2 separate regions of the Homo sapiens genome follow, and region 1 is linked to region 2. The links come from fine-mapping of genetic effects on gene expression. A gene starts in region 2. The other region holds a variant in brackets. All regions are shown on one strand. Distances are between the middles of the regions. Region 1 has its middle 43 kb from the start of TINCR. Region 2 holds the start of CLPP (caseinolytic mitochondrial matrix peptidase proteolytic subunit).

Region 1 (2,816 bases), 840 kb before region 2:
CTATTCCCAGGCTTCCATCTTCACCCCCACGACCTGTCCTCTCTTTGGCAGCCAGAGGGCGCCTGTGAGCCCCTGAGTCAGGTCCTGTCCCTCTTCTGTCCACAGCCCTCCATAGCTCCCACTTCCCTGGACGTAAAAGCCCAAGTCCTCCCAGCAGCCCACAAAGGCCTGCATGATTTGCCCCGTCCCCTCCCTGCCTCCCCTTCCTCCCTCTCTCCCACTCTTCACTCCGTCCCAGTCCCTGACACTCAAAAAAAGAAAACAACAACAAAAACAAACGAAAACAAAAATGGGGACTTTGCACACACCTAGGATCTGAAAGGAATTTTCAGTGCATAGCCCATGCCTGGACTCCTCCCTGAGTGAGGAGCTCACTGCCTCCCAACAGCTGTCCTTTTATCTATGAGCTGTGCCGGCCATGAGCCAGGTCAGCCTCTGCAAAATCTGGGCTGAGTGTGAAGTGCATGTGTGGAGGGAAGGGGTTAAAATGAGGTCAGGGGCCTGGCACGGTGGCTCACGCCTGTAATCCCAACACTTTGGGAGTCTGAGGCAGGTGGATCACCTGAGGTCAGGAGACCAGCCTGGCCAACATGGTGAAACCCCGTCTCTACCAAAAATACAAAAAATGAGCCGGGCATGGTGGCGGGTGCCTGTAATTCCAGCTACTTGGGAGCCTGAGGCAGGAGAATTGTTGAACCCGGGAGGCGGAGGTTGCAGTGAGTTGAGATCACGCCACTGCACTCCAGCCTGGGCAATAGAGCAAGATTCTGTCTCAAAAACAAAAGAGGTCAGGATCTTAGCAGGGAGGCTGCTGTTTTGCATAGGTTGGAAGTCCCCCTGAGGCCACGGGAGCTTGATTAATCCAGACCCTCCCTTCTCTGTCTTTGTCTCTCTCTTTCTGACAGTCTCTCCCTCTCTTTCTCCCTTGGTTTGTGTCTGTCTGCTTCTGTCTCTCCCCTCTTCTCTCTCACCTCTGTGTTTCTGTCTCTGGGTGTCCATGCTGTTAAAAGTCATACAGATATGAGACAGCGTTCAACCCCAACTGAAAATTGCCAGCCACCCCAGCAGTGGAATAATTGAATCGGCGGGCAGCAGGACTGAATCAAGTGAGGGTGGAAGGGGGCACATTCCCAGCTAAAAGTGGGGCCCTCGTTAGGGGGATGCAGTTTGCTGTTGGTAGCAGGAACATGAGTTTGCAGGGTGGCGAGGGG[G/T]GAGTGAACTCCCACTGGCAGGCCTGGCTCCCCAGGCTTCCCTGCTGAAGACAAGCTGAGTCCTGCAGAGAGAGGCTGAGGCCTGAGTCGCATCTATCCGCCCCCTCCCCCAACTTCAACACATGGAGTCTGCTTAATGCTCCGAGCCACTTGACAGGCCCCAGTTGAGGGTTTCACCAGGATCCACAGCCAGCCAAGCCCAGCTCATCAAAGTGGGGCTCCATTCTCCATCATCCGACCATTCACGTATCTGCCTTCTCCATCACGGATCCATCCTTCACCCATCCAGCCAACACCTACCCATCCATCCTTCCTTCCATTTCCCAAACCCCCATACACTCACCCATATACCCGCCCACCCATTCCCCATCGTCCGCCTTCCATCCCCCAACCTTCATATCCCATCCCCCTTTCACTCACCTACACACCCACCCATATACCCACCCCTACAATCCCCATTCACTCATCTACCCTTTCCTCCACCATCTACCTACAGGCCTATCCATCCTTACCTCCACTCAACCACCTACCCAAAAACCATCCATCCATCCACCCATCCATCCACTCACCATCCATTCATCCACTCATCCATCCATCAACCCAGCCATCCACCTGTCCATCAACACACCCAACCATTCACTCATCCATCCATCATCCATCCATTCACCCATCCACCCACCACCCACCCATCCATCCATGCAGCTATCCATCCATCCATCCATCCATCCATCCATCTATCCATCCATCCATCCATGCACCCATTCACCTATCCACCTACCCATCCATTTATCCATTCATGCATGCATCTACCCATCTATCCATCCATCCATTCATCCATTTATCCATCCATCCATTTATCCATCCATCCATTTATCCATCCATCCATCCATCCATCCATTTATCCATCCATCCATTTATCCATCCATCCATCCATCCTTCCATCCATCCATCCATCCATCCGCCCACCTACCCATCCACTCATCCATTCACCACCCACCCACCTAACCATCTACTCATTTATCCACCCATCCATCCATTTATCCATCCATCCTTCCATCCATCCATCCATCCATCCATCCACCCACCTACCCATCCATTCATCCATTCACCACCCACCCACCTAACCATCTACTCATTTATCCACCCATCCACCCATCCATCCATCCATCACACACTCATTCATCCACCCATCCATCTATCCATTCATACACACGCACACACACACACACACACACACACACACACACACCCTCCCATCCCCCACCCATCCACCTTTCATCCCCTATCCCTCCATCTCCCATCCCCTATTCAACCATCCCTCCACTCACCTTTCATCCATCTGCCCATCCATCCTCCCCTCCCTCACCCCACATTTCCCACCCACCCATCCATCCACCCATACACACACACCCACACACCCATTGATTCATTATTCAGCAAACGTTAGGCTCTTGCTGAGTGCCCATATCTACACTGGGTACTGAAGATACGGGAATTAAAACAGCCGAGGCCCCTGCTCGATTGGAGATTAGCACCTAGTTGGGAAGATAAATGTTAAGCAAACCCCGGCACACACAACTTCATTGTAGAAATTGTGGTGGTTCC
Region 2 (2,768 bases):
GATCTCCAGGAAGAATCCACAACACCCTTCTCTGGGCTCCCACAATCTACTCCACAGGTGGCCAAAAAATGAATGAGGAGGTCTCAGTAGAAGTCGGCCACACCAGGCTGGAAGCTCTTCAAGGCCAAGACCCAGGCTAAGTCCTCTCTGGGACCCCTCTTCCAAGATGAGCTGTGGGAACACTGCAGCTTTTTTTTTTTTTTTTGAGACGGTGTCTGGCTCTGTCGCCCAGGCTGGAGTGCAGAGGCGCCATCTCAGCTCACTGCAAGCTCCACCTCCCAGGTTCACACCATTTTCCTGCCTCAGTCTCCTGAGTAGCTGGGACTACAGGTGCCCGTCACCTCGCCCGGCTAATTTTTTGTATTTTTAGTAGAGACGCGGTTTCACCGTGTTAGCCAGGATGGTTTCGATCTCCTGACCTCGTGATCCGCCCACCTCAGCCTCCCAAAGTGCTAAGATTACAGGCGTGAGCCACTGTGCCCGGCCCTGCAGCTATTTTTAAAATAAGGAATAAGTGGGGTGTGGTGGCTCATGCCTGTAGTCCCAGCACTTTGGGAGGCAAAGGTGGGAGGATCACTTGAGGCCAGGAGTTTGAGACCAGCCTGGGCGACATAGTAAGACCCCATCTCTAATACATATATATATATATTTGCCAGATGTGGTAGCACACAACTGTAGTCCCAGCTACTCTGGAGAGCAAGGTGGGAGGGAGGGTTGCTTGGGCCCAGAAATTTGAGGCCACATTGAGCTAGGATGGCGCCACTGCACTCCAGCCTGGGCCACAGAGTGAGATTCTGTCTCAAAAAAATAAAAATAAATAAAGCAGAAACAGTAGAAAACGAAGACGAGGCCGGGCGCGGTGGCTCACGCCTGTAATCCCAGTACTTTGGGAGGCCGAGGTGGGAAGATCACGAGGTCAGGAGTTCAAGACCAGCCTGGCCAAGGTGAAACCCATCTCTACTAAAAATAACAAAATTAACCGGGTGCAGTGGTGTGCATCTGTAATCCCAGCTACTGGGGCAGCTGAGCCAGGAGAATGGCTTGAACCCAGAAGGCAGAGGTTGCAGTGACCCAACATCGTGCCACCGCACTCCAGCCTGGGTGACAGAGCAAGACTCCGTCTCAAAAAAAAAAAAAAAAGAAGACGAATTGGTCGGTAAGGGGACTCGAACTGGAGACTCTAAAACTTCTCCAGCCCTGCCCACTCAATTTACTTCATTGGCTCCTCCCTTTCAGGCTCCGTCCCTATCCCCGCCTCACCCTTAATGGCGCCCGCCCAGACTCCTGGAAGTGAGCGGCCTAGCGAGCGAGCTCCCAGGCGCAAAGCACGCCGGAAGCTGTAGTTCCGCCATCGGACGGAAGCCGACCGGGGCGTGCGGAGGGATGTGGCCCGGAATATTGGTAGGGGGGGCCCGGGTGGCGTCATGCAGGTACCCCGCGCTGGGGCCTCGCCTCGCCGCTCACTTTCCAGCGCAGCGGCCGCCGCAGCGGACACTCCAGAACGGCCTGGCCCTGCAGCGGTGCCTGCACGCGACGGCGACCCGGGCTCTCCCGCTCATTCCCATCGTGGTGGAGCAGACGGTACGGCGGCCGGGCGGGGACACGGTTCGGGGGCTCCGGGCTGGGTGGGGATCGGCTGGCTGCCCCGGCCCCTCACCTCCATCTTTCTACCCCCAGGGTCGCGGCGAGCGCGCCTATGACATCTACTCGCGGCTGCTGCGGGAGCGCATCGTGTGCGTCATGGGCCCGGTGAGCGCCCCGCGCCGGGACCCTCCCCAGGACTCTCCCAAGCGCCTGCCGACACTCCCTGCGCCCCTCCTTCCCTGGCCCCAGACTTTCCCTCAGGCTCCGCTCCCCTTCTAACCCCCTTCCCTCCCCTTCTGACTCCCCTCCTGGCTCCCGGTCCCCCAACCCGCTCCTCACCCCTTCTCTGCTCCTCGGCTCTTAATCTCCGACTTCCTTCCTGACACCTGGCACCGCTCCCCTCATTCCTACGCTCAAGACTCTCCCCAGCCATTCTCACCCCTTCCTTTCCTGTGTCCCTAGCCCCCTGACTCCCCCCTTCCTGTGCTCCAAACCCCCTGGGTCCTCTCCACTACTCTCTCCCCATCCCCTTCTGGGGCCTAAATTCTTCCCCATCCCTTTTACTTTGGGCTCTGGTCCCCCTTCCTGGTTCCCTGACCCATCCCCAGCCTCCCTTAAAACTCTCTCCCCACCCCGAATCTGGGGACACCCCTGCCCTCTCCACCTGCAGATCGATGACAGCGTTGCCAGCCTTGTTATCGCACAGCTCCTCTTCCTGCAATCCGAGAGCAACAAGAAGCCCATCCACATGTACATCAACAGCCCTGGTGAGCAGGGTCTTTCCTGGGTGCCAGGGGCACTCGTCAGGGCACACGGGTGACTCAGGGGACCAGAATCCCGGGTCAGGGATGTTCTCTCTCTGGGAAAGGGTGCAGAGCGTCAGAGTTCCAGAAGTGGCTTTAAACCACCAAAAGGTGCCTGTTGCTGGCTTTTGAGCCTCGGTTCACAAGTCAGGATGTGGCCTCTTTGATCCTGCACATACTGTTCTGCCAACCTGACCCGGCTGACATTTAAAAATTGGTAGATTTTAGGCCGGGCACAGTGGCTCACACCGGTAATCCCAACACTTTGGGAGGCTGAGGCGGGCGGATTGCTCGAGCTCAGGAGTTCAAGACCAGCCTGGGTAACGTAGTGAGACCCCATCTCTACAAAAAAAGTACAAAGATTAGCCGGGCAATGTGGCG

The links. PIP is the estimated chance that this variant, and not a neighbour inherited with it, causes the effect. A credible set is the group of variants that fine-mapping cannot tell apart.
Region 1: its variant is the best candidate, but not a certain one, in a credible set for the expression of CLPP in hippocampus (GTEx, PIP 0.89).

Annotation. Positions count from the first base shown.
Region 1 is chr19:5,523,239-5,526,054 of GRCh38, forward strand. No RefSeq gene overlaps it. Among named protein-coding and RNA genes, the nearest start is that of TINCR, 43 kb to the right of the region's middle. The variant G/T (reference allele first, on the strand shown) is at 1,212.
Region 2 is chr19:6,360,192-6,362,959 of GRCh38, forward strand. It overlaps CLPP (caseinolytic mitochondrial matrix peptidase proteolytic subunit), which reads left to right and starts at 1,340. Exons shown (of 6, transcript NM_006012.4): 1 at 1,340-1,581; 2 at 1,678-1,749; 3 at 2,255-2,351. The coding sequence starts at 1,384. It also overlaps a transcript of ACER1 not described here. RefSeq lists a silencer at 1,587-1,816 and an enhancer at 2,015-2,768.